Linked DNA regions of Homo sapiens: region 2 is linked to region 1. Evidence: fine-mapped expression QTL. A gene starts in region 1. The other region holds a variant in brackets. All regions are shown on one strand. Distances are between the middles of the regions. Region 1 holds the start of MAP1B (microtubule associated protein 1B). Region 2 overlaps MAP1B (microtubule associated protein 1B).

The links. PIP is the estimated chance that this variant, and not a neighbour inherited with it, causes the effect.
Region 2: its variant is the best candidate, but not a certain one, in a credible set for the expression of MAP1B in iPS cells (PhLiPS, PIP 0.70).

The regions. Positions count from the first base shown.
Region 1 is chr5:72,104,554-72,110,081 of GRCh38, forward strand. MAP1B (microtubule associated protein 1B) reads left to right here and starts at 2,922. Exons shown (of 7, transcript NM_005909.5): 1 at 2,922-3,162. The coding sequence starts at 2,979. It overlaps LOC105379028 (a long non-coding RNA gene), which reads right to left. Exons shown (of 3, transcript XR_007058813.1): 1 at 4,222-5,528; 2 at 3,372-3,434. RefSeq lists enhancers at 2,841-3,823, 4,229-4,523.
Region 2 is chr5:72,204,967-72,209,966 of GRCh38, forward strand. MAP1B (microtubule associated protein 1B) reads left to right here. Exons shown (of 7, transcript NM_005909.5): 7 at 118-4,599. The coding sequence ends at 273. Among named protein-coding and RNA genes, the nearest start is that of MIR4803, 38 kb to the left of the region's middle. The variant CTTTTTTTTTTT/C (reference allele first, on the strand shown) is at 2,996.

The sequences.
Region 1 (5,528 bases):
GGTCAGGGGAGAGTCCAAAATATTTGTGAGGTTTTGGTTTGCATCATGGGATACATGGTGTTATGGTTCATTGAAATAACAAGAATGAGAGAGGATCCCGTTTAGAGGTAAAAGATGATTTGGGTTTGGAGCATGTCAAGATTCTGGTGCCTTTGGTATATCCAGGTGATGTCAGTTGAGCAGCTGGCAATATTGGTGCTCTTATATGTTAGTTTTCCCCCTTTTTCCTCCTTAGAACTGTATACATTTTCTTGGGATGAAGAGGGGAAGGGGCTACTTTTCTAGTATTGAAGTATAATAATGTAATATTCTGTTCTTGTTTCAGAGGTGTTGTAGCAGTATCACTTGCACATTTTATAAGACTGCTTTTGCTCCATTGTCTTAGTAACTGGGAGAAAACAGGTCAATGAATCAACCATCCCTTGATTGCTTACTATGCCCAGCCACTGTATTAGGTGCTTACACATTCTATCATTTCCTTCTTTCTTACAGTTACTTTAACAGTTATAAAGATGTTCTTCTTCTCATTAAATAAGGAGATGGAAGATCAAAAAGAGTAAGTCACTTGCCAAAGTTACCGAGCTGTAAAGTAGTATTCTGCATCCCTAGTCTGTGTTCTCCCATTATGCCTCTATTTTTCAAAGTGTGGGTGATGACTTAGGTGGTCACGGTCATGGTGTTTAATTGCACAGACACACACAGTAAGAAAGCGCTCTGTTATAATTTTCATCCAATCTTCTGTTGCAACATGGAGAACAACTCAGTTAGGTGTTAGTATCTCTTTAATACCTCTCTAACACTTGGCCAATCTCTGTTTTCAACCAAGAAAGGAGAGCCTTGGACTCAGAGTCTTGAGCAAATCATAACAGTATGTAGCAGGAATTTGATCACATCTTATCTTCATTGTGTATATTTTTAGGGATACTTTCTATTAATAAGTGATATTAGTGTTTCCATTTATACAGCAACATAGAATTGCATTTAAAAATAAATTTAAGTAAAAGAAATAAACTGCATAAAAGAAAACTATTACATACATAAAAGTAACAATGGTTCAAAGAAAGGAAAACCAAACACAAACTAGATGAGGCTGGAATCCAACGGATGACCTTTAGAAAACAGTGCTCTTCACCATATTTCCTGCCCCTCACCCCAGTTATGGGCTTTGGTGCTGGCCTTACTTCTTGAACAGCAATTGAATATCTTAACCAAAATATTATCTGGAAACACTTCATCTAGTTACTGGTGAATGCAGCTAGTTGGAAACACTTCATCTAATTACTGGTGAATGCAACTCTCTAGTGATCCTGTCACAGATCCCAAATACTGCGGGCCAGACGGTATTTTCATTCTGCATTGATCAGATTGACATGTTGGATGGAACCCCCCAGCCCTTGGCTGCCCAGCATGTCTCCCATGCCAGGGTGTCAGGAAAGATATAAGAGCAAAGAGTACATGACCAATAAGTCATGGCAGCTAACACCTAAGACACTGGGTTATTTTGGAAATCTTAAGAATATCTAGGTGATTATCTATCTATCTATCTATCTATCTATCTATCTATCTATCTATCATCTATATTTTACTAACAGGCATTCTAGTATTAAAGCTATGTTGACTAATTTCCATCTATTCCTCTTCCTTAAAGCTCGAATTCCCCAGTCTTCTATGATACCATGTTTGCACATTTTGCTCTTTCCTCACCCTCCTCCCCTTTTCTGGGACAGAAGCTATATTCAGTATGTTTGTGAGAAACGGTTGTAAATAGGCTGCCTTAAAAAAAAAAACAAAAAAACAAAAACAAAAAACACATTTTTTAGTTCTTCTAAACACAAACAAAGGCAATAAAAATTCCCAATGCTACAGGTATTTTAAAAGACATCATTGTCACGAGGTAATTTTGCTTGTGTGTTCCCCAAGGAACTGAAAAGTACATTATAGTCACTGTAACCCTGCTGAGTAGAGACAGTATCTTCTCTTTATTCTTTGTTATTACTGATACTATCTGTTCAGCACATTAAGGAAAGAAATTGGTATCTAATATAATACATCTGCATTTCTCTCATTTCCCATGAGCACCACAAAGCCAGTACTTTTTCATCCTTGGCCCTGCCAGAGTAGAATCCAAGGCCTGAACAATAGTAGGCTTAAGTTTTGCATTTTTGATGTATTCTTTAAGTGAAGGTGGTAAATATTGATATTGGTAAATATCAGTAAATTCGTCTTCTTAAAGCCACAAGGTCAAAGAAAAGACAGGTTCCGTCTTCCTAGGCGGGGTACCCACAGCCCCGCATCTGCCCACTGTGGCTATCCCAGTTCCTGAGAACCTGGCTACATCATACACAGCACACAAGGCAGAGGCCTGACTAGTGCAACTCCAACAAGAGAAAAGACCCCCACTCCGAAAATGGAAACTCATCCCATTCCCATGCACAGACAGGGTGAGGGTGAGGAGTGGGCAGTGGGTGTGTACGTGGTGGGTGGTGTAGGTTGAGAGCGTCTTCCCCCTTCACGGCTGCAGCAGGAGCTCAGCGGGCGCCCCAGCCCCTTGGCTCGCGGCCCTGCCCCGACCATTGTCCGCACACCTCGTCCCTCCAGCTTCCGGGCCGCGGGCGAGATGATTTGCTGCAGATGACATCAGCCCCGGGCCAACGGCTGGAAGAGCGGAGGCAGCCACCGCGTGAGGATGTGCCGGGTGGTCCTTTCCTCCTCCTCTTCCTCCTCCTCCCGGCTCCCTGCCTAGTCTCCATATAAAAGCGGCGCCGCCTCCCCGCCCTCTCTCACTCCCCGCTCCTCTCCGCCGCGCACTCTCCGCGGCGCTGGGAGAGGGCGGAGGGGGAGGCGGCGCGCGGCGCCAGAGGAGGGGGGACGCAGGGGGCGGAGCGGAGACAGTACCTTCGGAGATAATCCTTTCTCCTGCCGCAGTGGAGAGGAGCGGCCGGAGCGAGACACTTCGCCGAGGCACAGCAGCCGGCAGGATGGCGACCGTGGTGGTGGAAGCCACCGAGCCGGAGCCGTCCGGCAGCATCGCCAACCCGGCGGCGTCCACCTCGCCTAGCCTGTCGCACCGCTTCCTTGACAGCAAGTTCTACTTGCTGGTGGTCGTCGGCGAGATCGTGACCGAGGAGCACCTGCGGCGTGCCATCGGCAACATCGAGCTCGGTAAGTGGCCCCGCGCCCCCAGAGACGCGCGCTGGGAGACGCGCAAACACGACCCCACCCAGGGCGCGACGGTCACTGCGCTCCTCCCGCGCGCCCCGCACCCATGCCTCTCCTCGTCACCTCTCATACTTGGTCCAGACCCTTTCTGGGCTAATTAAGAATAATCCGAATTATTAGATATGAGACCCAGAGGGAGAGTCTCCAATAACCTTGAGGGATCTGTCACCACGCTGAGTCCGCAGCCTGTGCTGAGTTGGCCACCGCCTCTCCCGCTAAGTGAAATGCAGGTGTCAGGGGAGCAGAGGCCACAATAAAGCCGCAACCGCAGGAGGCAGAAGGGTGGGGGAGACCTGATGCAACCACTCCTTTCAGTCCTCTTCTGGCCTCAGGAAAAGGCTGGGACCCCCACCACCGCAGACCTGGGGCCGAAGCCCATGTGCCAGGGCCCGCGTGGGATTCATCCTCACCACGGCTACCTCAGCCCCTGAGAAACGCCTTTTCTGATTTCAAACCTCCCGATCCTTTCTTTCCTCAGAATGACTAGGCTAGTCCTAGGGCCACGCCCGCTCCCCCCGCCCCCCCCTCCCCGGGGAGATGCTGGGATGCAGAACCGCCTGCGCTTCGCCACCAGACAGAGCCCGCCTCGCTACCGCCCTTGGGGCCTTGGCTGCAGCTCTCAGAAAGGACAATGGGACCCCAAGTTGCGGGGTGGGGCTGCTGCTTTTAGAAGTCCCAGCCTCGGGAGTGGTAGCTTGAAGGGGGTCGGTGAGGGAGACGTCAGCGGGTAGGGTCAGCTCCTCGCCCGGTGCTCGCACCAGTGGCGCGCTCTGCGGAGGCCGAATAGCGGTACGCCGGGGACCCTGGGCGGGGCCGTGAGGGTCCGGCGGGCACAGCCTCGGGCGCACAGAGAGACCGCCCCCAGCCCCACCCGAGCTGCCGCAGTGCCTCCGGACCGCCCGCCACACCTGCCCCCCCACACTGCGGCGCCCCCGTCGGGCACGGCTGGCTGGGCTTGCGCTCCGCCCGGGCCTCGGGCTGGCGGGGGCCGCGCGCCCCCACCTCTCAGTTTGCCTGGCTTTGTTGCCCTGGGAGTCCCTGGGTGGGCAGCTCTGGTCTCTGCCTTTCCCTTTATCCCTGGCGTCCCGGCCCTCCCCTCGCTCCTGACAGAGGTCGCCGGGTCCCTCCGCAGCCCCAGCCCGCGCTCTATTCTCCTGGGGTGGTGCTGAAGCGTTTCTCCGGGAGACACCGGTTGGTGGGCGTGGTGCAGTCCGCACTGCGGTCTCTACGGCAGCCCGAGGCGGACAAAGGGCGTTCACGCAGCCCTCGTTCCCCACTCCCCCTCCCCAATAAAAGACGAAAGAAAAACCTTGTTTTAGATGAAAAAATAAATGCTTGTCATCTGCCTCTGCAGTTGGAAACGGCCACTTGTCCCCAGAACAAAAGGCTGCAGGGTGGGGACTGGAGTTGCAGACCTGGTTCTTTTGTTTAACTTTAAAGCACTTGATTTTCCCTTTTAGCTTAAAAAAAAAAAAGAAAAAAAATGTGAGCAGAAAGTCATAGTATTTTATTCCAAAAAATTCAAGAACAAGAGATATTTCAGTAGTGAAATGTCTTATTTGAGCATCTCAATAACCCTTCATTTTCAGACTATATAGGCCTTTGGTCTAATCTGTTCTAATTTAGTTTATTTGCACAATTTTCTCCTGGAAAAATTTTACACATACTGACTTTGGGTGTGGCTATTGTGGGAATCAATGACTTTGGATTTTTTTCTTTAAAAAATTATTTGTAAGTAGCATTTCTGGGAAATAGGAATATATTAGGAGGTGCTTTTCTATCTACAAAATCTTCATAACCATTCGATGTGGTGGTGCTAGGAGAGGGATCATCAACCCCGTTTTAGAGCTGGGGGCCCAGAGAGGCAGGAAGGGTAAGAGAACCGGCTCAAGGTCACAGCACTCATAAGTGACAGAAGTACCAGTACTGCAGCGTCACTCGTTTTCTGACCCTGTCATGATGTTAGTGCAGGGTTGGCTAACATCCTATGATGGGAGGAAGGTTTCAGTACAACAGTTTTCAGGGCTTGCCTTTGTATGGCCATCCACTTGTGGGCAGCGCCCCATGCTGGGAGATGGTTCAGCAATCACCTTCGGATCGTAATTATCTTCCTGCTTTGTTACTCATCTGATCATCCTTTCAGCGCCCTATTCCTCAGAGGGTTTATACAAGCTGCATCTATTTATGGAGAAAACAGACGCATCCACGTACTGCTATGAAGAAGGGCTCCCTGCCTTTACTCGTTTTTACACTACTAGCACTTAGTGACAAAATTCAGATTTGTCTTCTTGACATTAATTTTTTAAAAA
Region 2 (5,000 bases), 100 kb after region 1:
AAAGTTTTCTCTCATTTCCCTTCTTCTTCCAGTGGTCTAATACCTTGCTATTCAATTTTTTTCATATGGTTTCTGTTTCTGCCCTTAAATAGCTATTTTTTTTTTCTCTCCCTGCAGGTGACACTGATCCCAACTCATGACTCAGAAGTGATGAGGGAATGGTACCAGGAGACCCATGAGAAACAGCAAGATCTCAACATCATGGTTTTAGCAAGCAGCAGCACAGTGGTTATGCAAGATGAATCCTTCCCTGCATGCAAGATTGAACTGTAAAAACCAAGGCCAGCCACACCACAGGATCTGAACTTTGTTTCCAGAAATTCTTCAATTTGAAATCACCTTTTCTAAAAAGTCAATTCATCTAGTTAAGTCGCTGAACAATTACCTGCCAAATGCTATACTGTGTCATGGTGATGCAAGTCACTAAATTTCTCAGTTTTTGCTGATTGCTAAGGGAAATAACAGTATTTCCACAATAGGGTTCAAATTCCTGCAAAATTACCTACCCCAGTTCATCTCTGCTGAACATTTGGAAACCATGCACTAGCCAACCCAACTGACTTCTGCTAGGTAGAGGCATTTGTCTTAGAGAGAGAGAGAGCGCGGGAGAGAGTGAGAGAGAGTGAGAGCACAAAGATAACGCAGGAGAGAGAGAGAGAAAGAATGAGAAAGAAAAGGAATGCAAGAGAAGGAGATGTAATGACAGAGAGTTCTGGTGAGATACCCAGAGAGAAAAAGAGAGAGCAGGGTGGGGTAAGGAGGAGAAAATAAACCAACAATTAGGTCTGCATTTTCTCAGGCAGTAGGCATTCTTTAGTCTACATAGGCAAAGTTTTCCATTTTTGTCAGTCTGAGTCATCAAAAAGAGTCTTAATTTTCTAAAACAAGTTGGCTAGAAGAAAGTAAAAAGAACAACACTTGTTATGAGGGCATGTGATATTTTCACATCTTAATTAAGCTCCTTCAGTTTGAAGGCTGCACACTGACATAATGTAGTGAGTGTAGACTGGCCATGCAAGTGGTTTGGGCCCCATTCAGAACTCTCAGACTCTAAACACACAAGTAGATTGATCTAAGGCATGCTCCCAGCATTTGTCCACCCACTTAGTCCACTCTGAGTCGATTAACCTGCATGCAGCAACACCCAAGTCCACCCCAATTAACTGAAGCAAATACCAAAGCAGTTGGGAGTACATATGGTAGACAATTTGCCTTAGGAAGTGACTTGAATGTACAAAGATACTTGATGCACTTATTTTTTAATGTGAGACAGCAAGTTTATAAAACATCCATATAGGATTATAGATACTTAAAGGAACACGTGGGTGAGCGTGTGTGGGGGTACTAGAAGCTGATCTGATTGGTCCAACAGTTTGATGCTGAGTCATGCGTGTTGAATCCCACTTCAGTGCACCTGTGGCCTCTCAGTCAAACAAGTTGTGCCTTTCACAGCTTCTTTACTACTGCAAGTTCAAGACTGAAATGGCTTCTATGATCAGAACTGGGAAAACAGTGAATCTTATGGTGGAAGAGGTTCTCAGCAAGTGTACAGTATTTACCTTCCTTTGTCTTACATTGGCTTTTTAAATTTTCCATTAATTTCAACATAATTATGGGAACAAGTGTACAGAAGAATTTTTTTTTTAAGATATGTGAGAACTTTTCATAGATGAACTTTTTAACAAATGTTTTCATTTACAGGAAATTGCAAAGAAAATTCTCAAGTGATAGTCTTTTTTTTTAAGTGTTTCGTAAGACAAAAATTGAATAATGTTTTTTGAAGTTCTGGCAAGATTGAAGTCTGATATTGCAGTAATGATATTTATTAAAAACCCATAACTACCAGGAATAATGATACCTCCCACCCCTTGATTCCCATAACATAAAAGTGCTACTTGAGAGTGGGGGAGAATGGCATGGTAGGCTACTTTTCAGGGCCTTGACAAGTACATCACCCAGTGGTATCCTACATACTTCTTTCAAGATCTTCAACCATGAGGTAAAAGAGCCAAGTTCAAAGAACCCTAGCACAAATTTGCTTTGGGATTTTCTTTTCTGGAAAAAAAAAATAAAAGAAATAGTACATTGAAAACAAATGAATTCTCAACTCCTACGGTTCATGTAGAGTTTAGAGAAAATTTCCATCATTGTCATCATTGAACTGTGAACCTGGGAAGCCAGATCATGATTAACACTGACATCAAGTTTCAAGTTGCAGATCAATGCACCCAGTGTTCAGATGAGGCAAACTTCTCCGTGACAACTGTGCTGTGCTCTGTCACATTACATTTCCTGCAGACTCTAAGATCTACGGAGTAGAGAACAATGACCTCATTTTATTTTCTATGTTAGTTATTTATTTCAAAATTAACATTTTAGTTGATTTTTGTCTGATAAGTCTATGTTTTGCACTGCTAACTATGATGAGGGTTTAAAAAAATGCTTCTTCAGGGTCCTTTCACTGAGGACCTATGCAGTCTACTTAATGCTGTGAATTACATTTTTCAAATGTTTAATTTTTTAAAGAAAATTAATATTCTATTTTTGTTAGGCTTCTCTAGAAATGCAGCTTTTATTTATTACCCCATTTCTTTCAAGTCCTTGGAAAATAACATATTAAGGGTACAAGAAATTAACACATGATGGAAAAGTCATTGTGACGCCAATGAATTTCATTGAGTATAAACTCATCTACTTCAAATTTATTTTATAACACAACCTAAGATACTCAAGATAATTATTTAATGGTTAGCTCTTAAGTTGAATTGGTCTACATAATGCGTGGGAAGAAAACCAGATTTTTAGCCTTCTTGCCAAATCCAGACCTCTGGTTGATTTTTCTTTGACAGAAGATGCAAGTTATTTTCCAATTTCACAATTAAATGTATTTAACCTGAACATTATTTTGCTTTAAAAACTATAAACATTGTAGGAGAATTATAGCCAGTCTTCAGTTATAACCACTCCACCCTCCTCACTTTCTCTCTCTCTCTCT[CTTTTTTTTTTT/C]TTTTTTTTTTGCTATGGGATTTAATGGGAAAAATATGTAAAAACTGTCACTAGTCAGCTGGCTCTTTTTCCTATGAAATCTATCAGTACCTTTCTCCATCCGTTGTTCTCAATATGACCACAGAGCCTGAGTATACCAAGAAAACCAATATTCGCATTACAGGTTGCTCCTGTCCTTCCAGACACCTTTCCTGCCTGTGTGACTAACCTAATTTTGCTAGTTCCATAAATACACGATTAGTTTAGTAACAGCCATCACAATGTACCATGTACATTCATGGTGAGAGCTAAAGATCGACACAGACTTCTAGGAGCTTTGTTCATACTGATTACTTAATCCAATTGTATAGATTGAATATTTGAGTGGAAGGAATTTACACTCTGTTTAAATGATGGGATTCTATCGAGATAGCACTCATGATCATGACCTTTTTGGTAGTATTCTTAAACAAAATTCTACAGAGACTAAATGTTAGCGATGATCCTCCATTTTCAATTTTAACCAATTCTGTCCCCTTTCTCAAAACCCTGAGCCCTGTGCATGCTTTCTCAGTCTTGTGGTGGGACTGGATACAATGACTAACTTCCCCTCCTCCCCTCTTTAAACACCATTTTCCATGGAGTTCAAAAAAATTTTTTTTCTTAACGTTACATATCATAGTGAATGGTTTCCCCAGTGTATATGAATGTTTTAAGTGTCTCCAATAGCTTATGCAGTCTAGGAGCTTTCCAATACTCATTTAATTAAGATTTAATCATTTGCTAATGGAAATCTTACCACCTTTCATTTTCCCTCTGTTACCAAATTTCAGCTCTTAGGAGCTGCTCTACAATTCTGAATTTGCTTTTCTTGCCTCTCTTTAGTCACCTGTCACAGGAGGTTCCTGCTCAGTAATGATATTGTGAGTTAGGATAATAACTTTTTTTTTTTGTGCTTCAGATTTAGAAGAAAAGATCCTGTTTCCATTTGAAAGGAACTGTAAGCTTTTATCTTTTAACCAACTGAACAATACACCAAAAGCAGCCTAGGGATGAGCATTTCTTTGAAAGCAATTAGGTTATTCACCTGGTATTAAAACTATTTACTGTTAAAAAATCTGTGACTTCATGAAGTTGATTTTTAAAGGCAGCATCAAAAACTGAAAAGGAAGGGAAAAAATAGGCAGCTTCTCTGCACTTGTTTGGAGCTCCCCAAAACAGGAGCCATGGAGAAGTGGCATCAAGACCGGGCTGCCCTTTCGAGAACACCCTGTGGCAGTTCAGAGACACGCTTTTCCTACACTGCATGCAGCCCCTCTTTCCAGCACTGGAAAGAAGTGGTCTTGAGCCCAGCTGAGAAGCACTTCACACTCCTCTCTCTTGTTCTGAATGGTGTTTGTGTCAGTCTGCAGCTGTGTATGGTATTATGTCTTATAATCCTGCATCACTTCTATCCTATCCAGTCATATCTAATGTAGAAAATTAGTTTCCAGTGAAAGTAATATGTAGTGCTTTTATGATATTTGTGTGCAATATCCCCTCTTCCATTGAGGATATTTGATGTAAAGGAAAAAAAAAAACTCAGTTCCACAATAAAATACAAAAGTGGCAAAAGTTCATGTGTGTGCTGTGCTGTCTTTTGCTTTGTGTTCCTGAGTTGGGCTTTGCCACTCACGCAGAATGCTGGGCAGTCAGGGCATGACGGCAGGGGGTGACTACGTTCTTTTCAAGATGGGCTCCCTGGCTTTTGGCAAACTGCCGAAAGCATCTTGCTAATGCTTGCAACTGCTACCTCGTTAACTTTTATAGCCAAGCTCTAGAGGATGTGAGCGTGTAAGGACAGAAACTGGGAGGTGAAGGGAAGGAACAATTAAAATTATTGCTTAAAAAAAAGAAAAAAAAAAGGATAGCTGGGTGCAGTGCTACATGCCTGTGATCCCAGTACTTTGGGAGGCCAAGGTGGGAGAATCATTTGAGCCCGGAAGTTCAAGGCTGTAGTGAACCATGATTGTGCC